Regions from separate parts of the Homo sapiens genome. Here regions 1 and 2 are each linked to region 3. The links come from fine-mapping of genetic effects on gene expression. A gene starts in region 3. Each other region holds a variant in brackets. All regions are shown on one strand. Distances are from middle to middle. Region 1 overlaps ADA2 (adenosine deaminase 2). Region 2 holds the start of TMEM121B (transmembrane protein 121B). Region 3 holds the start of HDHD5 (haloacid dehalogenase like hydrolase domain containing 5).

Region 1 (8,175 bases), 30 kb after region 3:
ATCTGGCTGGGTGCGGTGGCTCACACCTGTAATCGCAGCACTTTGGGAGGCTGAGGCAGGAGGATTGCTTGAGCCCAGGAGTTCAAGGCCAGCCATGGGCAACATAGAGACACCCTGTCTCTACAAAAAATACAAAAATTAGCCAGGCATGGTGGCATGTGGCTGCAGTCCCAGCTACTTAGGAGGCTGAGGTGGAAGGATAACCTGAACCCAGGAGGTGGAGGCTGTAGTGAGCTGTGATCACGCCACCACACTCTAGCCTGGGTGACAGAGGTGGAGGCTGTAGTGAGCTGTCATCACACCACCGCACTCTAGCCTGGGTGACAGAGTGCCCATGTCAAAATATATATATATATATATATATATGAAAACTCCACTTTCCTGATAGAAATAAAACTCAAGAATTTCCATTGCTATGTAGCACATGTGTTTTGGTGGATTTTCACTGGTTTTTAAAGATTTCTTTTTCTTTTTAAAAATAAGGATATTGGCCGGGTGTGGTGGCTCACACCTGTAATCCCACCACTTTGGGAGGCCGAGGTGGGCGGATCACGAGGTTAGGAGTTCCGGACCAGCATGACCAACATGGTGAAACCCCGTCTCTACTAAAAATACAAAAAATATTAGCCGGGCGTGGTGGCAGGCGCCCGAGTAGTCCCAGCTACTCGGGAGGCTGAGGCAGGAGAATGGCGTGAACCTGGGAGGCGGAGCTTGCAGTGAGTTGAGATCGTGCCACTGCACTCCAGCCTGGGGACAGAGCGAGACTCCGTCTCAAAAAATAAAATAAAATAAAATAAAATAAAATAAAAAAATAAAAATAAGGACATTACTTTTAGGTATTAGATACCCAAGTCCTGGCAAAATCATCTCCAAGGACCATACATCTTGGAACCTGTTAGGTCCTGAGCTGCAATGTTTTGTAGGGCCAGAATTATTTCACACACATAAGTATGATTTTCCCCAACCAGACCACAAGCTCTTCAAGGTTAACAACACCCTCGCCCAACCCCCTCCCCCTCAAACAATTCTTCTGCTCTCCTAGAGCAGACTTTGATCTAAATTGGATCTAAATTGACTCGAAATGTCAGGAAAAAGAGATTAATGCACAAGGTCCCTTTCTCTGAGAGAAGGTGTGATAGAGCAGAGCTTAAGCCTGGGTGGGAAATGAAATTGCCCACCACTCTCTCCACCCCTCTTTGGTCTTCCGAGGGTGACAGGTGGGATGCTGAAGAGAGCTGCCCTCCTGGTCCCGGCCTCCATGTGAACAGCCTCCTCCCAAATCTTCCTTTGGATCTGAAATTGCAGCCGTGATCTTTCTTAGTTAGGGTTTACACATTTTAAGGACTGGAATACGGGAGGGGCTGAGATGACTGAGCGAGCCCAAGGATGGAGTTCTGGGAAAGAAAGATGTGGCTGGGCTGATGGCGTTTCAGGAGGAACAGCAGCCAGGGCCTGCATGGGGCAGGGCAGGGTTTCCTCTCCTACGATAATGCGGGACAGAACATCCTAAAGACAAGGAGCAGACCTGGTTCTCCTCCCTCTTCTGCCAATTTCCAGCTGTGTGGCTTTAGGCAGATCAGTTAACCTCTCAAGCACAATTCACTCGGAGGATGGAGAGCGTCAGAAAGTGTTCCAATTCATACACATTATATACAGGCATCAAAATATCACATGAGGCCGGGTAATCCCAGCACTTTGGGAGGCCAAGGCGGGTGGATTGTTTGAGGTTGGGAGTTCAAGACCAGCCTGGGCCAACATGGTGAAACCCTATCCCTATTAAAAATACAAAAATTAGCCGGGTGTGTTGGTGGGCGCCTGTAATCCCAGCTACTCGGGAGGCTGAGGCACGAGAATCACTTGAACCTGGCAGCCAGAGGTTGCAGTGAGCCGAGATCGCACCACTGCACTCCAGCCTGGGCGATACAGTAAGACTCTGTCTCAAAAGAATTTTTTTCCGTGGCTCAAGCCTGTAATCCCAGCATTTTGGGAGGCTGAGGTGGGTGGATCACTTGAGGTCAGGAGTTCAAGACCAGCCTAACCAACATGGTGAAACCCCATCTCTACTAAAAATACAAAAATTAGCTAGGCATGGTGGTGCATGCCCGTAATCCCAGCTTCTCCAGAGGCTGAGGCAGAAGAATCACTTGAACCCGGGAGGCAGAGGTTGCAGTGAGCCAAGATCGCACCACTGCACTCCAGCCTGGGTGACAGAGTGAGACTCCATCTCAAAAAACAAAAAAATTGACCAGGTGCAGTGGCTCACACCTGTAATCCCAGCACTTTGGGAGGCCTAGACGGGTGGATCACAAGGTCAGGCGATCGAGACCATCCTGGCTAACACAGTGAAACCTCGTCTCTACTAAAAATACAAAAAATTAGCCGGGCGTGGTGGCGGGCACCTGTAGTCCCAGCTACTTGGGAGGCTGAGGCAGGAGAATGGCATGAACCCAGGAAGCCGAGCTTGCAAGTGAGCCGAGATCATACCACTGCACTCCAGCCTGGGCCACAGAGCGAGACTCCATCTCAAAAAAAAAAAAAAAAAATTTGTTTTCCTTTTTGTGTAGAATGGAATCTTACTATGTTGCCCAGACTGGTCTCAAACTCCTGGGCTCAAGTGATCCTCCTGCCTCTGCCTCCCTAAGTGCTAGAATTACAGATGTGAGCCACTGTACCTGGCTAAAACACTTTTTTTTTTGAGACAGGGTCTAGCTCTGTCACCCAGGCTGGAGTTCAGTGAGCCTGGGCTCAGGCAATCCTCCCACCTCAGCCTCTAAGTAGGTGGGACCACAGGTGTGTACCATCATGCCTGGCTAATTTTTGTATTTTTTTGTAGAGACAAAGTTTTGCCATGTTGCCCTGGCTGGCCTCAAACTCCTGGGTTTAAAGAGATCCACCCACATCAGCCTCCAAAGTGCTAGGATTACAGGCATGAGCCACTGTGCCTGTGCCCAGCCTAAAACGAATTTTTATAGCCAAAGTAGGATGATGTGAGTTTGCAGGATTATGCCCCTACCACGAAAAATTAAAAAAAAAAAAAAAAAGAAGAAGAAGAAGGATTCAAATTCAGACTCCACTGCGCACCAGCTCTTTAACCCTGGACCACTGTGTTTGGAGCCTTGGGCTCTTCATCTATCAAATGGAGATTAAAAACTGGGGAAACAATCAGAAATCAATTAGAAAAGGCCAGGCGCAGTGGCTCACCCTTGTAATTCCAGCACTTTGGGAGGCCGAGGAGGGCAGATCATGAGGTCAGGAGATCAAGACCATCCTGGCTAACACGGTGAAACCCCGTCTCTACTAAAAATACAAAAAATTAGCCAGGCGTGGTGGCAGGTGCCTGTAGTACCAGCTACTTGGAAGGCTGAGGCAGGAGACTCTCTTGAACCTGGGAAGCCGAGGTTGCAGTGAGCTGGGCGACAGAGGGAGACTCCGTAAAAAAAAGAAAAAAAAAGAAGAAGAAGAAAAGAAAACAGGAAGGAAAGAAGAAAGAGAAACTAGAAATAATACATGTAAAGTGGCTGATTCTATTATCCTTGTTATTCCTTCTCCATGGGGCTGTTGTCAGGATTAAGTGAGATAGAGCACAGGAAAGGGCTCTGGAAACGCCTGTAGGCTCTAACCCTGAGGCATGGGCCTGTGGCCAGGAGCTCTCCCATTGACCACCTCCGCTGCCTCTGCTCGCATCCCGCAGGCTCACCTGTTTCTCCGGCGTGGAAGAAGTAAGGCAGCTTAACGCCATCCTTGGCGGGGATCATCAGAGCTTCCTTGTAGTCATGCAAGGAGTGGCCAGTGTCCTCATGCCCCACCTGCAGGACAGAGAGGGACAGGGAGGTGTCTGCAGGGCGCATGCCTCACTTGCTGATGGCGCGCCCTGGAGCCTGTGCACACCCTTCCTTGTACCCTGCCACCACTGCCGGGACCTTTGTCACACAGCCTTTTAAGAATGACCAGGAGCAGGCCAGGCGTGGTGGCTCACACCTGTAATCCCAGCACTTTGGGAGGCCGAGGCAGGCAGATCACGAAGTCAGGAGATCGAGACCATCCTGGCTAACACAGTGAAACCCCATCTCTACTAAAAATACAAAAAATTATCCAGGTGTGGTAGCGGGTGCCTGTAGTCCCAGCTACTTGGGAGGCTGAGGCAGGAGAATGGCATGAACCCAGGAGGCAGAACTTGCAGTGAGCTGAGATCACACCAATGCACTACAGCCTGGCCAAGAGCAAAAAATATATATATATATATATTTTGTAAAGACGGGGTCTCACCGATTTGCTCAGGCTGGTCTAGAACTCCTGGACTCAGGTGACCCTCCCACCTTGGCCCCCCAAGGTGCTGGGATTACAGGAGTGAGCCACTGCCCTGGACTAATCTAGATTCTTTTTTTTTTTTTTTTTTGAGATGGAGTCTTGCTCTGTCGCCCAGGCTGGAGTGCAATGGTGCAATCTCAGCTCACTGCAACCTCTGCCTCCTGAGTTCAAGTGATTCTGCCTCAGCCTCCCAAGTAGCTGGGATTACAGGTGCAGGCCACCAAGGCTGGCTAATTTTTGTGTTTTTAGTAGAGATGCGGTTTCTCCATGTTGGCCAGGCTGGTCTTGAACTTCAGACCTCAGGTGATCCACCTGTCTCGCCCTCCCAAAGTGCTGAGGGCATGAGCCACTGCACCCGGCCTAGATTCTTTATGAGATTGCCGAGCTGTCACCTAAGAAATGTCCTGGTTGTGCTT[C/T]GATTTGGTGGGGAGGTGTGGGACAATGACAACACCTATGAATGTGTAGCTTCAAAAACTGGTGTGGCCAGGCATGATGGCTGGAGAGGGAGGGACAAATATCACTACCTTGAGGATTTGCAAAGGCCTGGCTCCATCCTGGACTCTGTTTCCAGACATTACCCCCCAGTCCCCACCCCGCGTGCTACAGGGGCTGGTGAGGGTTTTAAGACCCACACCTAGGTGAGCAGTGTGGGATAGAAAAAAGGGCACAGGCAGGGCCATGGGGAATGAGCCCATAACTGTGGTCCAAACTCCCTGAATGCCATCCTTATTCTGGAACTTTCCTTGTTAGCTTGTTAGAACTGGCTGTCTGCTCTCCCTTCTCCAGTGACAGCCGTCCCCTGTAGGCCTCTGAAGAGGGTCAGCGCTGAGCTCTGAGCAGCCCTGCTGTGTCAGCAGCCTGAGCCTGCCCTGGGATGTCAGGGTACCAACAGGCACATTGCGCTCCCTTCCCAGGGAGTTGCCGCTCCACCCAGACAGGCATCCTCGCATGCCCCCTTAACAGGCAGCCCTTCTGTTCACAGCATGGGTTACCAGGTCAAACCCTGCCACCACCGTGGGGAACTTGATTCGGAGCCCCATGGCCATTCGGATGGATTCTGCGATGACAGCCACATCTTTGGATCTGTGAGACAGACAGAGAAGCCAGGAGACAGTGCCCAGCACCGACAGAGCACAAACCCCAGAGCACACCCTCCGTGCAGGGCTGGGCCAGCCCCAAGTGTGCAGGTCCCGTTTCCCAAACCTGAGGCACCCCTGCCCTCCTGACCCCACCCTGACCAGGCCATTGTGATCCCTGAGAGATATGTAGCCCAAATCCATTCTTATCAAAGACCCTTGCTGGCTCTGGGGGCACCTGTAGTCTCTGAAAAGTAGATGGGGTCAGAGGACCCACGGGAACAGTTTTATTTGTCTGCGTTTAGAGGAGGCCAGGTGGCCTTGTTCCCAGCTCTCCCTGCATCTCTGTCGGGGGTGTAGACATGGATGCAGCTCAGGGGCAGCTCTCTGTCCACTGCACACCTGCAAAGGGCCACAGGTCACCCAAGTCCCTGATGGGTCGGCTGGACCCAGTAACCATATGGCCTCTTGCTGATTAAGTCAGCAAGATCCTGGGTACTGCAGAACCCTACAGGGGCAAGGCAGGCAGCATGACAACAAAAGCCCCAAAACACAGGGTCTGGCGCAAGCCCACGACAGGCTCAAGGTCTTTGCCCTGCCACTGGCTCTCCTGCTCCAATCCTCGGCTCTGTGGGGATAAAGCCTTCCTGGCCTGCCCCACCCATGGCCTCTCCCCAGAGCCTAGGCAAACCTGGGGGCACTGATGCACTCAGCTCAGCCCTCACACCCTCCTGCCACTGGCCCTGGGAAGGGGCACCTGGCACCAGGGAGCCTCTGAGCAGAACGTGGGCCCATCCTGCAAGCTCCCTCCTAGGGGGACCGGCACAAAGCCAGAGCTTAGCTCCTCCAGGCCCCAGGCCCCATGGAAGGGAAGGGGACTCAGGAAGACTGGGCATGGGAGGAGGCTCCTGGGGAGTCAGTGCCCTCCAGAGCCCAGGCTCGTGGGTGAGCTGAGCAGAGGGAGCCGCTGCCGGATCCCTTCGGTGCCCGCCCCGTGCCTGACTCCGAGGGACCCCACTGGCTGCTGCCCTTGCAGCTGCGACCATGGACAGGTCCCAGCCTTAGACTGGCTGCTCTTTAAAGTGAGGGGAGGGGTCTTGTCTGGTAAAGTCAGAAGGACAATTAAGCTGCAAAGCTTTCTGTGCTTCCCTGGGAAAAAGAGTGGGTCTTTCACCCACGTGCCAGGCCACGCACATGGTACTACTGGAGGTCCCCACACGCAGACTTGAGCCAGTGCCACTCAGGGTGTCTCCGTGATCAAGGACTCACACACAACCACACACAGAACCCAGAGGCAAATTGAAACCAAAAACGGGCCAATTATCCAAACATTCAGGCAAAACCATTATGCTCATAAATGAGTCACCAGGCCAATGTGGGGTCACAGCCGAGAATTATCTGGGAAATTCACACATTCTTCATTTCAGTTTGGGGGTGAAGACCTGAACTAGAAGTGGCTTCAGGCAGCAATTCATTGTTGGGTCACCGCACTTACCTAGGACTGTGCTCTCACACAGGCACAGCACAGCTCCTTGGCACCAGTGCTGGGCCTCTCCCGGCCTCCCAGCCCCGCTTCTCACCCCTCCCCTCCCAGCCTAGTAGCTCTGCCTGCATCCCAGCCTCCCAACCCGAGCTTTTCAGCAATATTCTCTCTCACCTGTGATCCGAATAAATGATTTTGATTCCAATAAACTCAGGGTGAGTTTCCACAAACTTCTGAGCTACTTCCTGGTAAGTCTTCACTGACCACTCTTCGTCATGGTGCTCTCCACTGAGCTCATACACCTGGGAAGAAAGCACAACCAGGAGCCGTCAGGTGAGCAGTGAGAGACGCCACCCCCTTCCCAGCCACCCCTGCCCAGCCACCCCTGGCCAGCCACCCCTGCCCAACCACCCCCTTCCCAGCCACCCCTTCCCAGCCACCCTTGCCCAGCCACCCCTGCCCAGCCACCCTTGCCCAGCCACCTCCTTCCCAGTCAACTCCTTCCCAGCCATCAACGAGCTCTGGGAAAAGTAGATGGGGTCAGGGGACCCACAAAACAGTTTTATTTGTGTTTGGATTAGGCCAAGTGGCCTTGTTCCCAAAAGTCCAGCCAGGCTGGACTTGTGCTTCCCTTGTTCAGGTCCTCTACGGCCTTGGGCATTGTCTCTGCTGCTGCATGGGGAATTCCTAGCTGGCTCTGGGATAACCCTGATGCTGATGCCCACCTGTCTCCTTCATTGCTGGGTCACTGCACTTAAAACAGCACATGGCACACGCGAGGGTAGGTGCCCATTAAGCATCTGCATAATGGTTGAAGAGCAGGTCACGGGGGGAGAGGATGAAAGCTAGAAAGAGTGATCTGAGAATGACGTCATTCCCCACTACCTGCTCACCTCCCCACTGCTTCCCTAACTCCAGGTGCAGCAGCTGCAAGGCGGCCACTGCCACCAGGGACAGCAAGGGGGACACAGTGAGAGCAGAGTGGGGAGAGTTGGGAGTGGGCAGGTGACAAGGAAGCTAAGGGAAGGGAGGTGTGTAATGGGGAAAGGTGGCTCACACCTGTAATCATAGCACTTTGGGAGGCCGAGGCAGGGGGATCACTTGAGGTCAGGAGTTCAAGACCAGCCTGGCCAACATGGTGAAACCCCCATCTCTACCAAAAATACAAGATTAGCTGGGCATGGTGGCACATGCCTGTTAATCTCAGCTACTGGGGAGGCTGAGGCAGGAGAATCGCTTGAACCCGGGAGGCAGAGGTTGCAGTGAGCCAAGATCATACCACTGCACTCCAGCCTGGGCGACAAAGCA
Region 2 (8,175 bases), 35 kb before region 3:
CTCCGAGATGCAGTGGCCCAGCTGGGAGCCTCCCTGAGGTGGTGGCGGAGGTGGTGGAGGGGCGGAGGGCGGAGCACCGTAGCCCCCTCTGGCCCGACTCGGGGAGGCCCGATTGCCCCGGTCCCAGCAGCCCTCCAGGGCCTCCAGGCCCCGGCAGCCGAGGAAGAAGAGGTTCTTGAGCATGAAGATGGAGAGGGGCTGCTGGTAGCTGACCACCAGGAGGCAGCGCAGCGCCAGCAAGGGCACGTCCACCAGGCAGCCGCCCAGCAGGCGCAGAAGGCGGCTGCAGCTGCCAGGCCCGGAGGCCTGGCCCCAGGATGCAGCCGCTGCGGCCGCGGCGTTGAGCTCGTAGAGCCAGAGCACCGGCGAGGCGAGGGTGAGGAAGTAGACGGCGATAAGCAGGTAGCGCAGGTGCGCGGGCAGCGGCACGCGGCCCTCCAGCATCAGCTCCACCAGCGTGAAGCTGTCGAGCAGGTCCAAGCACGTGCCCAGGAAGCATCCGGCCGCGCGGTGCCGCTGGGGCTGCAGCAGCAGGGGTCCTGCCGATCCCGGGGGCGCGCCCGCCTCGCTGATGGCCCGCACCAAGCTGTAGAGCAGGGGCACCGACAGCGCCATGGTGAGACGGAAGCCCGTGGTGCCGAAGGGCGCGCGTAGCTCGATGAGGTCTAGGATGGACGTGCCCAGGATCAGCACCACCTTGGGAGTGAAGGCGATGGAGTAGATAAGCCAGGCCAGGTAGGCGAAGGCGAACTCGCCCGCTGCCGCGGCCGCCCCCAGGCCGCCCCCCGCGCCGCCGGCGCCCCCGCGGGCTCCGCGTGCCTTGGCCCCAGCGGTAGCGGCCGAGGGGGCGGGCAGATGCAGGGGCGGCGCGGCGTGGTGGTGGTGCAGGTGGTGGTTGTGCGCGCCGCTGGCTGCGCCGCCCCGACGGCCCCGGCTGTTCTTGGCGAAGAAGATGGCCCAGCCCACCACCACCACCAGGTCAGTGGCGATCCAGGAGCACCAGTACAGGTCGGTGACGGCGATGAGGTACAGGTCCAGCAGGCCGCCCTGCGCCAGCAGCAGCACCACGGACAGCGCCTGGTAGCCCCAGCGGCACCTGGGACTGGGGGCGCAGCCGCGGCGCCGACCTCTGCGGCCGGGGCGGTCTGGGCAGCCGCAGCAGCAGCAACACGGGCAGCAGGAGGCGCCGCTGCCGGTCCCGGTGCCGCCCGCGCCCCCCGCCGAGCGGCTCCCGGGGCCCCCGACGGCCCCGGCCGCGGCGCCCCCGCCGAAGTCCGCGGCTGTCATGCTGCAGGAGGAGGTGGGCGTGGAGGTGGAGGAGGAGGTGGCCGCTGAGGAGGAGAAGGCGACAGGCGCGGGGCCGGCGGGGGCGCCCACCTGAGCCGGCGGCCCCAGGAGCGCGGCGTTGGGCACCAGCGGCTTGCTGACGCTGAGGCTCTCGTCGTCGTCCTCGCGCTCGGCGCCCGTGCTGCTGCTCGGGGAGCCGCCGCCCCCGCCGCGTCTGCCGCCGCCTCCCCCGCGGCTGGTGCTGGTGCTGGTGCTGCTGTCGCCGGAGCCTCTCCGGCCGCGGAAGGAGCCCCCGCGGAGGAAGAGGGGCTGCAGCCGGGCGGCTGCCGGGGGCGGCGGGAAGGAACCGGACGCGGAGGAGACCGAGCGAGGGTGGCCGAGCGCCGGGCGCATTGTCCTCCGAGGGGCTCTGGGGCCGCCCAGCTGTTCCCTCCCCGCCAACCCCGGGCGGGCGAGGCGGGCTAGGCGGCCGAGGGGAGCCGGGGCCCGCCGCCTCCCCAGCAGTGGGGACTCGCACCTGGGCCGGGCGGCGGCGAGATCCGGACTGGAGCCACTGGACTGGGCGAGCCGGGCCGGGCGGCAGGGAGAGGGGGCAGGCGGTGAACCGAGCGGACCGCGGTGAAGACAGGCGAGGCGGGGGCGGGGCGGGGCGGGGCGGGGAGCGAGTCCCGCCGGGAGGGAGGGAGGCTGGCGGCGGGGAAACCAGGACTGGATTCGAGGGGGAGAGGAAGCAGCGAGACCAGAGGAGGAGAAAGCGCGGCGCGCTGGATCAACGGGAAGAGAAGGGGCGGGGGTGCAGTGCGTCACAGTCGGGTCGGGAGCCCTGTGGCCTGGAGGAAGCGGGAGGAGGCGCGGGCAGCCGCCAGGGCGAGGCGACCCGGTGCGGGGGGACTCCCATGGAGCGCGGACTCCTAAGGAAGTCGCTGGGAATCCCACCGGCTGTACCGCAGGGCGTTAGTACCTAGATGGCTTCGGTGCCCCCAAGCGATGGGCTCAAGCTACAGGGCGGGCTTTGCACCTGGCCTTCTCAGCTCTGAGGCAGGCAGTGGGCAGCTTCGCCTCCACCCTCCGTCCAGCGCCCTTCCCATGGGGCCATCCGCCTCTCCCTAAGGCACTAAAAACCAGTGGAGGAGTCAGGCCATGTTGGCAAAAAGGGCTCGGGCAGCAGCCCCAGACCTATAGTCCTAAATATCCATGTACCCAGCCCTGGGGTCGCGAGCCATCTCAGGGACGACCCGATTCCAGCGGATGGAGAAGTTCCCTGAAAACACCTGCCTGGGAGGAGAGACGAGGGAACGAGATTGGGCAAGTGGCATCCGCCCAGCGGGCTTCTCAAAGGTTTTTAAAGCAGAATGGGACGTAATAGGAAGATGTGTCTAGCAGAGAGTAAAATAAAGGGGCATTTAGAGGTGTGGGCACCTGGATGAAAACAAAGGCTCCAAAGGGATGATGGTGAGGGTTACAGCCCACCACAGTAGACAGAGACACCAAGGAAGGAATGCAGTCAGTGGCCCTGCGTAGACAGTCTCAGGAGAGAGCACACCAGCTCACCCCAGGACTCATCCAAGGCTGGGGATGGATGTCGATGCAGCAACTCTGGAAGGCAGAAGGTAGAGTGCTGCCTTTAGGGGTTTAAGGGAGAAGGAAATGACTAGAGCAGTTGGGGCTCAAAAACAATCTGAGGTTCACCAATAATGGAAACATCCCATTCCCAGCCCCATGAAAACAAGGCAGAAAGCTTGCCTGCCCTATTGGCCTCTGCACCCTTGTGGGGCCTGTGGGCTCCCTGATTTCATGACCTTTGAAGCTGCTGCTGCGGGCTCATCTCCCCTAGGTAACAGCTTGCAGCGTG[A/G]TAACACCATGCAGTGTGAGGGAGCTGTATGCAGTGGAGCCGCAGGGGTTAGTCAGGCCTCGCCCCTAAATCTGCCTCTTAAATAAGAGTCCGTTTCAGCCAAACCTGCCTTTTCCAGTTCCGTGGAGGTCAGTCTGCACAGCCAATCCCTGGTAAATATACAATTTAGAACCTGCACCATCTCCACCTCCCCCACACACACCACTTTTGGAAAGCTGGCATGGTGGTGAGGGCAGGAGCTCTGGGGCCGCCATCCCACCTGTGCCACTTAACACCTTTGTGGTCTTAGCCTGAATATTTCACCTCAGAATGTTGATCTGTAAACAGGACCCCACCCCAGCCGGGCGCGGTGGCTCACGCCTGTAATCCCAGCACTTTGGGAGGCCGAGGCGGGCGGATCACCTGAGGTCGGGAGTTTGAGACCAGCCTGACCAACATGGAGAAACCCCATCTCCACTAAAAGTACAAAACTAGCCGGGCATGGTGATAATCCCAGCAATTTGGGAGGCAGAGGCGGGCAGATCACCTGAGGTCAGGAGTTTGAGACCAGCCTGGCCAACACAGTGAAACTCCGCCTCTACTAATAATACGAAAATTAGCCAGGGGTGGTGGCACGCACCTGTAATCCCAGCTACTCGGGAGGCTGAGGCAGGAGAATCGCTTGAACCCGGGAGGCAGAGGTTGCAGTGAGCCAAGATTGTGCCATTGCACTCCTGCCTGGGCAACAAGAATAAAACTCCATCTCAAAAAAAAAAAAAAAAGGACCTCACTCCTACCTTAAGGGATTGTTGTGAGTATGAAGAGAGATCATGTGTGTAATCTCTCTTCGATGACAGAGCCAGTCCCTGGCTCAGAGTCCATGCTCAGTTAAAGGTCTCTGTGTTATCATCATTCCATTAGCCCATGCCTTAGCCTCCCAGGGAACATCGACTCATAGCAGGGGCCACCAATGGCTGTTTTCTGCCTGGACTCTTGAGTTCTGCTCCCCAGTAGCGTTGCACTTTGGTAAGTGCCCAGGAACAAAGCTGCCATGGTTAGGAGCACTGATTCTTGGAGCCGGTCTTCTCAGGCTCACAGTGTGAGACATTCAGGGTGCCAGTTGGGGCCAGGGTCCACCCATGTGGGGCAGGGTGAGGTCAGGAGTTCAAGACCAGCCTGATCAATATGGTGTTTCACCAATACTCCGTCTGGGGGGAAAGCAAACAAACAAACACTTCAGTCCTACCTGAGGTGCCCAAAAATAAACAAACAAACAAAAAACCTGGCCGGGCACATTTGAGATCAGCCTGGGCAAGATAGCAAGACCTCATCTCTAAAAATAATTTTTTTTTTCAAGACAGAATCTTGCTCTATCCCCCAGGCTGTAGTGCAGTGGTGCGATCTCGGCTCACTGCAACCTCCGCCTCCCGGGTTCAAGCGATTCTCATGCCTCAGCCTCCCAAGTAGCTGGGAATACAGGCGCCCGCCACCACACCTGGCTCATTTTTGTATTTTTAGTAGAGACAGGGTTTCTCCATGTTGGTCAGGCTGGTCCCGAACTCCCGACCTCAGGTGATCTGCACGCCTCAGCCTCCCAAAGTGCTGGGATTACAGGCATGAGCCACCACACCTGGCCATAAAAATAATTTTTTTTTTAAGTAGCCAGACGTGGTGGCATGTGCCTGTGACTCCTAGCCACCCAGGAGGCTAAAGTGGGAGGGTCATTTGAGGCCAGGAGTTCGAAGTTACAATGAGCTATGATCATGCCACTGTACTCCAGCTTGGGTGACAGAGCAAGACCCTGTCTCAAAGAAAAGAAAAGAAACCTTTAGATTTCAAGTATATAGTAGTCCTCCCTTTATCCATGAGGGATTCATTCCAAGACCTCCAGTGGATGCCTGAAACTGAAGATATACATATACTATGTTTATTTTCCTATACATACCTATGATAAAGTTTAATTTATAAATTAGGTACCATAAGAGATTAAGAATAGTAACTAATAATAGAACAATTATAACAATATATTATAATAAAAGTGTATGTGAATGTGGTGCCTCTCTATCTCAAAATATCTTAATATTTTCAGACAGTGCTTTACCATGGAACTGAAACCATGAAAAGTGAAACTGCAAATGGGAGAGACTGCTGTATAGTCACTGAAAAATTAATGGATGAGCTCAACAGCAAATTAGACACAACTGAAGTGAGTAAATTTAACAATATATATGAAGACATTCTCTAGAATGTAGTACAGAGAGCTAGAGACTGAAAATATCTAGGAGACAAGAGACATGAGAGATAGATTGGAATATCCAAAATATGTCTAACAGAAGCTCCAGAAGGAGAATATAAAACAATAAGGGAAGGACAATACAGAAATTTGAACTGAGAATTTTCCAAAATTGGTGAAAGAACTTCTCCAACCCACAGATTTAGGAATTGCAATGAATCCTAAACAGGATGAATAAAAATAAACATGCTCCGAGATGTTTTCAAGTAAAATTGTAGAACTCTAGACAAGAAAAAGATCTTAAGAGAAATCAAACAGTAAAAAAAAAATTACTTACAACAAACAACAATTAGATTAATGGCAGACTTCTCATCAGAAATAACAGAAGTCAGAATGCAGTGGATGGTAGAAATAAAGCTAAATAATCAGTAATCACAATAGATGTCATATTAAACGACACATGATCAGATGGATTTTTTTTAAATGTCCAGTTATAGGCTTTTATAAGAAATATCCCATGGCCTGGCATGGTGGTTCACGCCTGTAATCCTAGCACTTTGGGAGACTGAGGCAGAAGGAACCCTCAAGCCCAGACTGGGCAACAAAATGAGATGCCATTTCTACCAAAAAAAAAAAAAACCATTTTTTTTTTTGAGGGACGCAGGTTTTGTTTTTGTTTTTGTTTTTTTTAATGGAGTTTCACTCTCGTTGCCCAGGCTGGAGGGCAATGGTGAGATCTCAGCTCACCACAACCTCCTCCTCCCAGGTTCAAGCGATTCTTCTGCCTCAGCCTCCCGAGTAGCTGGGATTACAGGCATGCGCCAACACACCCAGCTAATTTTGTAATTTTAGTAGAGACGGGGTTTCTCCATGTTGGTCAGGCTGATCTCGAACTCCTGACCTCAGGTGATCCTCCCACCTCGGCCTCCCAAAGTGCTGGGATTACAGGCGTGAGCCACCATGCCCGGCCTTCAAAAAATCGTTTTTAATTAGCCAGGTGTAGTGATACATGCCTGTAGTCCCAGCTAGTCAGAAGGCTGAAGTGGGAGGATCCCTTGAGCCCAGGAGTTGGAGGTTGCAGTGAGCTATGATCACGCCATTGCACCCCAGCCTGGGTGACAGAGCAAGACCCTGTCTCAAAAATAAATAAATAAAAGAAAAAGAGAAACATCCCTAAAATATAAAGACAAACAAAGTAAAAAAGGGCTGAAGAAAAAATACACAAATATAATTTAATGCATGTATATAATTAAACTAGGCAAATATCAACTTTAAAAAGTGGGTTTGGCAATATTAATACCAAAAAAATAAACTATATGACAAAGAATATTCTTAGGGATAAAGAAGTTCACTATGTAATGATAGAAGACAGTACACCATAGTAGTGAAGGGCACATACTCTATAGCCAGACTACCTGGATTCAAACCCTGACTCCACCATTTAGTTTTATTTTATTTTTATTTATTTTTTTTATTTTTTGGAGACGGAGCCTCACTTTGTCACCCAGGCTCGAGTGCAGTGGCACGATCTCGGCTCACTGCAACCTCTTCCTCCCAGGTTCAAGCAATTCTCCTGTCTCAGCCTCCCAAGTAGCTGGGATTATAGGCGCCCGTCACCACACCCAGCTAATTTTTTTTTGTATTTTTAGTAGAGACAGAGTTTCACCATGTTGGCCAGGCTGTTCTTGAACTCCTGACCTCAGGTGATCTGCCCACCTCGGCCTCCCAAAGTGCGGGGATTACAGGCATGAGCCACCGCGCCTGGCTGACTCCACCATTTAGAAGCTGAGTGACCTTAGGCAAATTACTTAATCTCTCTTTCCTTGATTTTCCCACTAGAAAATGGGGAAAATAATAGTACCCACTTCACAGAGTTGTTATGAGGAGTAAATGAATTAATAGATAGAAAGTGCTCAGCACAAAGTGCTATATACATATTTGCTGCTGTAAAAGGACCAAGTTCCAGAAAGACCATAGTTCTGAATGTGTGTGTATTCAATAACATTGCCCTAAAATATATAAATAAAAATGGGTAATATTTATGAGACACTGGCAAATAACCTAATGATAGTAAGAAATATAAACACATCTCTCAGTAATTGATAGTTCACACAGATAAAACATTGGTACAGATGTATACAAGTTGAACCATATCATTAACAAGCTTGATCTAAATGGCTGAATTTAGAGCTCTGTACCTCCAAAACTAGATACTACACATTGTTTACAATTTTACATGCAACATTTACAAAGCCTGACCATGTACAGACCAATCCTTTGACCTCACAACAATTAGATTAGAATAAAATAACAAAACAACGACCAACCACCCCCCACATATTTGGAAGTGTAAAGACATACTTCCAAATGAATCATCCAAAAATTAGAAAATATTTAGAACTAAATGAACATGAAAATACCACCTGTCAAAATGGATGGGACATAGCCAAAGCAGAAGAAGAACATTTATAGCTTTAAATGTTTGTGTTACAAAGGAGAAAATTGAACATTTAATAAGGTAAACATCCAACTTAATAAATTGGCTGAGCACAGTGGCTTGTCATTCCAGCACTTTGGGAGGCTAAGGCAGGAGGGTCACTTGAGGCTAGTAGTTTGAGATCAGCCTGGGTAACATAGCAAGACGTTGTCTCTATAAAAAATTAAAATATTAGCCAGGCATGATGGTACATGCCTGTAGACCCAGCTACTTGGGAGGCTGAGGTGAAGACCTCTTGAGCCCAGCAGTTTGAGGCTACAGTGATCCATGATCACACCACTTCCAGCCTAGGCAACAGAGTGAGATCCTGTCTCAAAATAAGTAAAT
Region 3 (8,175 bases):
GGAACTCCTGGGCTCAAGTAATCCTTCCAACTCCCAAAGTGCTCAGATTACAGGTGTGAGCCATGGCACCCAGCCAGAATGTCCTTATTTTTCTTAGAGGTACACACAGAAGAATTTAGGTTTGAAATGACAAGAAATCAGAGATTTACTTTAAAATCTTAGAGCCACAAAAAAAGGAGGAGGGAGATAAGCAAAGCAGGTGTTGAAAAATGTTAATCATTGCTCAATCTGGGAGATGGGCACAGGGGTTCATATTATTCCCCATTTTTGAATTTTTGAAAACTTACATAGTTAAAAAACAGCTCATTTGTACAATGGTTGCAAAATTTACCATACATAGTTTTAACGGTCATTGCCTAAACAGTCACAAGATTTGCTTTCCTTTTTTTTTTTTTTTTGTTTGGTTGGTTTTTTTTGAGACGGAGTCTCACTGTCACCCAGGCTGGAGTGCAGTGGTGCAATCTCGACTCACTACAACCTCTGCCTCCTGGGTTCAAGTGATTCTCCTGCCTCAGCCTCCCAAGTAGCTGGGACTACAGACGCGCGCCAACACACCTGGCTTATTTTTTATATTTTTAGTAGAGACGGGGTTTCACCATATTGGCCAGGCTGGTCTCAAACTCCTGACCTCGTGATCCGCCCGTCGCGGCCTCCCAAAGTGCTGGGATTACAGGCATGACCCACCGCGCCCGGCCCAAGATCTGCTTTCTTAAAAATAAGAATCCATAGCCCCTGCTACTTAGAACAGCAAAGTTTTCAGGAAAATTGAGCAATATCCATAAGGCTCCCTCACCCATCACTCCAACCCCTCCCCAACCTTCAGGATGTACACAGAGAACCAGGCACCCAGTACCATAAAAAGTGAAGGTGTACATCAATTATAACAAATGTACCACACTAATGCAAGATGGTAATACAGTCACGCACCATAACGATGTTTCAGTCAATGACACACTGCATATACAATGGTCCCTTAAGATTATAATGGAACAGGAACTCATAGCTGAAGAAGAGGCAAGAGAAAAGGTAGCCACAGAAAGAAAAGAACATCCAAGAAAATTCACAGTGAAGGGTTCAGCAGCTTTTACAGACCTCAAGTTCCTTAAAAAGTCTGAAACATGAACTCCAACGCCAAAAGGTTTTCATTACTAGAGAAGAATGTTTATGGTACATTATCTGTTTACAAGCAAACCTATGACAAAAAAAAAGAAACCAAGCAAACCACAATGGACATATTTCTGATAAGAGTGACACCTCAAGAGCCTCAGAGAGGTCCTTCAGAAGATATCCAGAAGAAAGCACTGTTATCGCAGATGACAGTTCCATGCATATGACTGCCCCCTAAAGACCTTCTAATGGGACATGGTGTGAAGGCAGAAGACAGTGATATCAATTACCTGACCCGACCTTATGTAGGCCTGGGCTAGTAGGTGTTTGTGTCTTCATTTTTAACAAAAGTTAAAAAAAAAAATTTTTTTTAAGGTAGGGCACTGTGGCTCACGCCTGTAATCCCAGCACTCTGGGAGGCCAAGGCGGGCGTATCATGAGGTCAGGAGTTCGAGACCAGTCTGGCCAACATGGTGAAACCCCATCTCTACCAAAGATACAAAAAATTAGCCGGGCGTGGTGGTGCACACCTGTAATTTTTTTTAATAGAAAAAAGCTGCCTGTAATCCCAGCATGTTGCAAGGCCAAGGAGGGCAGATCACGAGGTTAGGAGATCGAGACCATCTTGGCTAACACAGTGAAACCCCATCTCTACTAAAAATCCAAAAAATTAGCCAGGCGTGGTGGCAGGCACCTATACTCCCAGTTACTCCGGAGGCTGAGGCAGGAGAATGATGTGAACCCAGGAGGCAGAGCTTGCAGTGAGCCGAGACCACGCCACTCCACTCCAGCCTGGGCAACAGAGCGAGCGAGACTCCGTCTCAAAAAAAAAAAAAAAGCTGGCTGGGCACGGTGGCTCATGCTTCTAATCCCAATACTTTGGGAAACCAAGGCAGGCGGATCATGAGGTCAGGAGTTCGAGACCAGCCTGGCCAACACAGTGAAACCCCGTCTCTACTAAAAATACAAAAATTAGCTGGGCGTGGTGGCAGGCGCCTGTAATCCCACGTACTTGGGAGGCTGAGGCAGGCGAATCACTTGAACCTGGGAGGCAGAGGTTGCAGTGGACCGAGATGGCGCCACTGCACTCCAGCCCGGGCAACAGAGCTAGACACCGTCTCACACACATACACACACACACACACACACACACACACAAAAGAAAAAAGCTATGGAACAATGATATAAATGAAGATATATTTAGTACAGCTGTACAATGTGTTGTGTTTTAAACTAAGTGCTATTACAAAAGAGTAAAAAATTTTAAAAATTAAAAACTTGGTAAAGCAAGAAAGTTAAACTAAGGTTAATTTTCTTTTTTTTTTTTTTTGATAAGAGTCAGGATCTGTTGCCCGGGCTGGAGTGCAATGGCCCGATCTCCGCTCACCGCAACCTCCCTCCCAGGTTCAAGGGCTTCTCCTGCCTCAGCCTCCCGAGTAGCTGGGATTACAAGTAATAGATCCATTACATAGATGGGGAAACTGAGCTTGGAAAGCTATGTAAATTGCCTTAAGTGAAGCCGCTAACAGACTGCACAGGATTCAATTCTAAAGCTCGTGCTCAAACTCTGTCATCCTGCATTCTTCTTTTTCTGCTCTACCGGAAGAGTCACTTGGAGACATTTCGGGACTCTGCAGAGATGCTAGAGCCAATACAACAGTTATAAATAAGGGCGATATTTCCTTATATTTATATCCTGACAGTTTGTAAGTCCTTTTATCAACATATTCTAATTTCAAACTTCCACCTTGGTCACGTCTAGCTATGTGACACTGGCCAAGTCACTCAGCTGCTTTGAACCTTAGCTGCTCCATATTTAAAAATCATAAAAATAATACAGCTGTTAAGAGCTTAGACTCTGGCACCAGACTACCTGAGTTCCAGATTCTGCCACTTACCAGCTGTGTGCCCTTGGGTAAGCTGCTTAACCTCTCTGTGCCTCTGCTCCATCTATAAAATGGGAAGACTAATAATAGTACTTTCCTCGGAGTTGTTATAAAGATTATACGAATAACTGTGAAGTACTTAGAATAGTGCCTGGCACAAAGTAAGCACTATGTGTTTTTTTCATGCAAGTAATTTGGCCGGGTGCACTGGCTCATGCCTGTAATCTCACCACTCTGGGAGGCCAAGATGTGAGGATCATCTGAGGTCAAAAGTTCGAGACCAGCCTGGCCAACATGGTGAAACCCTGTCTCTACTAAAAATACAAAAATTAGCCGGATGTGGTGGCGGGTGCCTGTAATCCCAGCTACTCGGGAGGCTGAGACAGAAGAATCGCTTGAACCCGGGAGGCGGAGGTTGCAGTGAGCAGAGATTGCGCCACTGCACTCCAACCTGGTGACAGAGATGCCGTCTAAAAAAAAAAAATGCAAGGATTACTGTGAAATCCGTATGTTAATGTAAAATATTACTTGTGCGTTTAGAAGACAAAGTGATTCCTTTTTCCAGAAAAGGCAAAACGGCCCAAGGGAGCGTGAGAGCCGTGGATCTGACCAACCTGGTTTAGTGTCCTGTGCCGTCTCCCAGCTGCAGGACCTGAGAAAACGTACTTGAAAACTCGTCAAGCTTCGGCTTCCTGACCACACAAGGTCACACCTTCTCAGAAGTTGCGGGGAGGCTCACACATCACTACCGCGCCGGGCACACAGCAGGCGCCGGCTCCAGCCCTCCTGCTCCCGCCCGCGGAGCCTCCAGCGCTCAGTCGAGGTCACAGCGAGCTGAACTGAACCCAAGGCCCGCACCAAACCCACAGGCACTTGGGGGCGGAGCACCCGCAGGCGCGGCTCCCGGCGCGCGGCCCAGTTTCCTCCACATGCAGATGAAAATCACGACCCAAACGTCCTCATGGTGGAAATCAGAAGACGCGCAGGGAAAACAGGGACGCGGAAACTGCCGGGAAGCGCAGGGGCTGACAAGCAGCCTGGCCCAGGCCGTCCCACGAGCGCTCTCCCGCGGGAGTAGCGTTTCCGAGGCCGCCAGCGAGTCAGAGGAAGGCAGGGCGCATCCGCCCTCCAGCAAGAACGCGATGCACTCGGGCGCGACGACGGTCCAGGCAGTTCCCAGGAGGCTGGGATACCAGCCCGGCCGCCCCTCCTTCCCCGCGGCTCCCCGCCCCGCCTCCGGCCCTGAGTGGCGAGTGGCTCGGCCAGAACCCGGACGTCCTCACCTGAGCGGGGCCCACAGCATAGCACCTGCGGGCGGGGCGGCCCTGGAGCCCCGCAGCCGCGCGCGCCGCCCGCCAGCAAAGCCCACGCGCCGCGCCGAGCGCAGCCACACAGCCCCACGCAGCCATCCGGCCGTCGCCGTGCGCACGTGCACGGCGTGCGGCCCCCCCCCCCCGCGAGTCCGTCCGCTGCACAGCCAATCAGCGGTCGGCGCGCGCGGCATCACGGGAGTTGTAGTCCTGTAAGCGCGCGGAGCCCGTCGGGCGCCTATGGAACTCGACCCGCAGGCCAAAGGGGCTCCGTTGCAAGGAAGAAGTGCGGGGTCCCGCCGCCTCCTAGACCGAGATCGCGGTGAGCTGGCCGCGGCGCACAATGGGCACGGCCTGGGCGGCGGCGTCCGTACTATCGCCCTGTGCCTGCGGATCCCGGTAACATTGCGCGGCAGGCCCCAGGCCGGCCTCCCTCAGCTTCGCGGACTGTCTGGGCCGGGGGTCTCAACCTTGACTTCAGGGCCGGGCCGCTGGGGCAGACCCTTAGTGATGTTCAGGTCCTCTGGGCCCCTGCCAGTCAAGGGACGCTCGTCGCGCGCCAATTGTTAAGTCTTTCATTGTTTCTGTAAACCTGCTGACGCCCTCCCAGCGCATAGGGAGACTGCGCACGTGAGTCCGCCCCCGCGCGCACTGCGGAGAGGTAGAGGCACGAATGTAGTACAAGGTACAAAATGACTACTCCAGAGAGGGCCAGATGACTAAGTCAGCAAACACTTAGGGAACACGACTGTGTCCGCTGCGCGTTTCCCGGAGTAGACACAAGGGTGAATGAACAAAGAATGGATTTCGGTCACTGAAAGTGGAGAGGTAGCCGACTCCGTCCGTGGAGGCCCTTAGCAGAGCTGGATCTGGTAGTCCCCCGGTCATGAGGGGAGATTCTGCTGGAGGAAAGAGGTCTCCATTCCCACCGTTTGAAATGTGTAGGATGCCCTCAGATTCTTTGGCCCATTCATAGGTATAGCTATGCTAAAAACGCGGGACCCTACAATGTACTTAGCACTAGCAGAGAGGGAGTCGAGGATATGGACAGAGACTGCACTAGCTCACACATTAGCAGGCCAGGGTGCGGTGGCTCACCCCTGTAATCCCAGAACTTTGGAAGGTCAAGGTGGGAGGAAAACTTGAGTCCAGGAGTTCCAGACCAGCCTGGGCAACATAGGGAGACCCCTTCTCTATTTTAAAAATAATAAAATAGGGCCGGGTGCGGTGGCTCACACCTGTAATCCCAGCACTTTGGGAGACTGAGGCGAGTGGATCAGGAGGTCAGGGGTTCAAGACCACCTAGCCAAGATGGTGAAACCCCGTCTCTGCTGAAAACTGCAAAAATTAGCCAGGCGCGGTGGCAGGCGCCTCAAGTCCCAGCTACTCGGGAGGCTGAGGCAGGAGAATCGCTTGAACCCAGGCAGCAGAAGTTGCAGTGAGCCGAGATTGCGCCAATGCACTCCAGCCTGGGTGACGGAGTGAGACTCCGTCTTGAAAAAAAAAAAAATAATAATAATAATAATAAAATGAAGAAGTAGTTAGCGGTGTCCTTTGGTCCTCAGCTTTGAAGGGCAAGATCTTAATTCAGTTCAACTACAGCTAATCAGAATTTGGAAGACTAATTCAAGTCAGTCAAACTCACAATAGCCCGACACTTAAACCCTGCCAGGGGACATAGCTCTCTAGGATTGCAATGTTCCTAATCCCTTCCTTCTATTAAACTACCTAGAAACTGATTTAGTCATTAGAAATTTCTTGGTATGATGGCTTTTAAACATGCCCACAGTTTTTTTTGACAATCGGCTCCTCAAAAGCATAGCCAGGCGCGGTGGCTCACACCTGTAATCCCAGCACTTTGGGAGGCCAAGTCAGGCGGATCATCTGAGATCAGGAGTTCAAGACCAGCCTGGCCAACATGGCGAAACCCGTCTCTACTAAAAATACAAAAATTAGCTCGTCATGCACCTGTAATCCCAGCTACTTGGGAAGCTGAGGCAGGAGAATCGCTTGAACCTGGGAGGTGGAGGTTGCAGTGAGCTGAGAGCGTGCCACTGTACTCGAGCCTGGGCAACAGAGTGAGACTCTATCTCAAAAAAAAAAAAAAAAGAAAGAAGAAAAAAAGGCCGGTCACAGTGGCTCATGCCTGTAATCCCAGCACTTTGGGAGGCCGAGGTAGGTGGATCATCTGAGGTCAGGAGTTCGTGACCAGCCTGGCCAACATGGTGAAACTCTGTCTCTACTAAAAATACAAAAATTAGCCAGGCATGGTGGTGTGTGCCTGTAATCCCAGCTACTTGGGAGGCTGAGGCAGGAGAATCACTTGAACCTGGGAAGCAGAGGTTGCAGAGAGCTGAGCTGAGATTGAGCCACTGCACTCCAGCCTGAGCGACAGAGCGGAACTATGTCTCCAAAAAAAAAAAAAGCTGGAGTTGGGTGGGTATGGTGGTTCATGCCTGTAATCCCAACACTTGGGAAGCCGAGGCAGGTGGATCACTTGAGTCCAGGAATGCCAGACCAGCCTGGGCAACGTGACAAAACCTTGTCTCCACAAAATATATATATAAAAAAAAAATTAGCCAGGCATAGTGACACACACCTGTAGTCCCAGCTATTCTAGGAGGCTAAGGTGGGAGGATCGCTTGAGCTCAGGAGGCAGAGGTTGCAGTGAGCCAAGATTGTGCCACTACAGCCTGAGCAACAGAGTGAGACTCTGTCTCAAAAAAAAAAAAAGAAAAAAAAAAAACCTGGAGTCTAATTCTAATTCCCCTCCCATTGAGTGTGGGCTGGACTTCACTGACTTTTTAATAAATAACATGGGACAGAAGTGAGTGTAGTTGATTTCCAAGGCTAGGTCATAAAAGATACTGTGACTTCCACCTTGCCCTCATTTAGATAACTCATTCTAGGAAAGCTAGACGCATAGTAGAGTTGTCATGTGGTGAGGCCATTCAAGCAGCCCTATAGAAAGGCCCACATGGTGAGGATCTGAGGCATCCTACCAGTAGTCAGGAGAGAGAATCTTCTTGGAGGTGGAGCTTCCATTCCTGGCGGAACCCTTGACCAAAACCTCATGAACCACCCTGAGGCAAAACCACCCAGCTAAGTCACTCCTGAATTCCTAACCCTCAGAAACAGGGAGATACTGAAGGTTTGTTGTTTTAAGTCATTACACTTTGGGATAATTCGTTATACAGCAAAAGATAACTAATATTCTTGGTGATCAGGACTGTGTCATACTTAGTGTTATTAATCTTCAGGAGTTTCAGCCTAAGTCAGCAGTGTTCCCCACATGGGCCTGCCTTGCTTTCATTCTTCCTCCATTGTGGACTGAATGCCATAAGACCATTCCAGCCCATCCAAAGCAGGAACCAGAAATGGGCTGGGTTTTGCTGTTGTTTTAGTTGGTTTGGTTTGTTTGTCTGTTTGTTTCGGGGAAAGATGACAGAAGGTGCACTGTGGGAGATTCCAACATGATTATTGAATCAAAGACTGTGTGTGTACGTGATAAGTCTTTATTAGATTCTCTGGGTTCATAAGCCAGTAAAAGGTAAGAACCATCCTCTAAGGAGAAATCTCACAGCTAAGGCTTGCCATGTTAAAGAGTTTGCACTTCCAGGAACAAGGGCACTCACGTCTACCCTGTGCTATTCTAGGTGTCTTCCCATCCTGCCGGATGCACGGAGCACATATTCTGCCACCCCTAGCTCTATCCTTTGGGCAGTGCTGAATAAACACTAACAAACTCAGGCTCTGTGGCTGACATTGTAAGCAGAACCCCTGCCCTGCTGTTGCTTAACGCATCTTTATTTTGATTCCCAGTCATGTTACGACACAATCACATTAAGATGTTCTTTCGTATTCAGGTTCAG

What was found. PIP is the estimated chance that this variant, and not a neighbour inherited with it, causes the effect.
Region 1: its variant is fine-mapped to the expression of HDHD5 in whole blood (TOPMed, PIP 0.93).
Region 2: its variant is fine-mapped to the expression of HDHD5 in whole blood (TOPMed, PIP above 0.99).

Annotation. Positions count from the first base shown.
Region 1 is chr22:17,184,642-17,192,816 of GRCh38, forward strand. ADA2 (adenosine deaminase 2) reads right to left here. Exons shown (of 10, transcript NM_001282225.2): 5 at 7,042-7,169; 6 at 5,301-5,391; 7 at 3,698-3,806. Among named protein-coding and RNA genes, the nearest start is that of HDHD5-AS1, 29 kb to the left of the region's middle. RefSeq lists enhancers at 3,304-3,805, 3,806-4,305, 5,194-5,694. The variant C/T (reference allele first, on the strand shown) is at 4,725.
Region 2 is chr22:17,119,448-17,127,622 of GRCh38, forward strand. TMEM121B (transmembrane protein 121B) reads right to left here and starts at 1,913. Exons shown (of 1, transcript NM_031890.4): 1 at 1-1,913. The coding sequence starts at 1,680. LINC01664 (long intergenic non-protein coding RNA 1664) reads left to right here and starts at 2,148. Exons shown (of 4, transcript NR_103793.1): 1 at 2,148-2,592; 2 at 5,208-5,324. RefSeq lists a silencer at 1,625-1,754 and an enhancer at 2,340-2,871. The variant A/G (reference allele first, on the strand shown) is at 3,140.
Region 3 is chr22:17,154,850-17,163,024 of GRCh38, forward strand. HDHD5 (haloacid dehalogenase like hydrolase domain containing 5) reads right to left here and starts at 4,428. Exons shown (of 8, transcript NM_033070.3): 1 at 4,277-4,428. The coding sequence starts at 4,402. It overlaps HDHD5-AS1 (HDHD5 antisense RNA 1), which reads left to right and starts at 4,540. Exons shown (of 2, transcript NR_024483.1): 1 at 4,540-4,988. RefSeq lists a silencer at 4,110-4,439.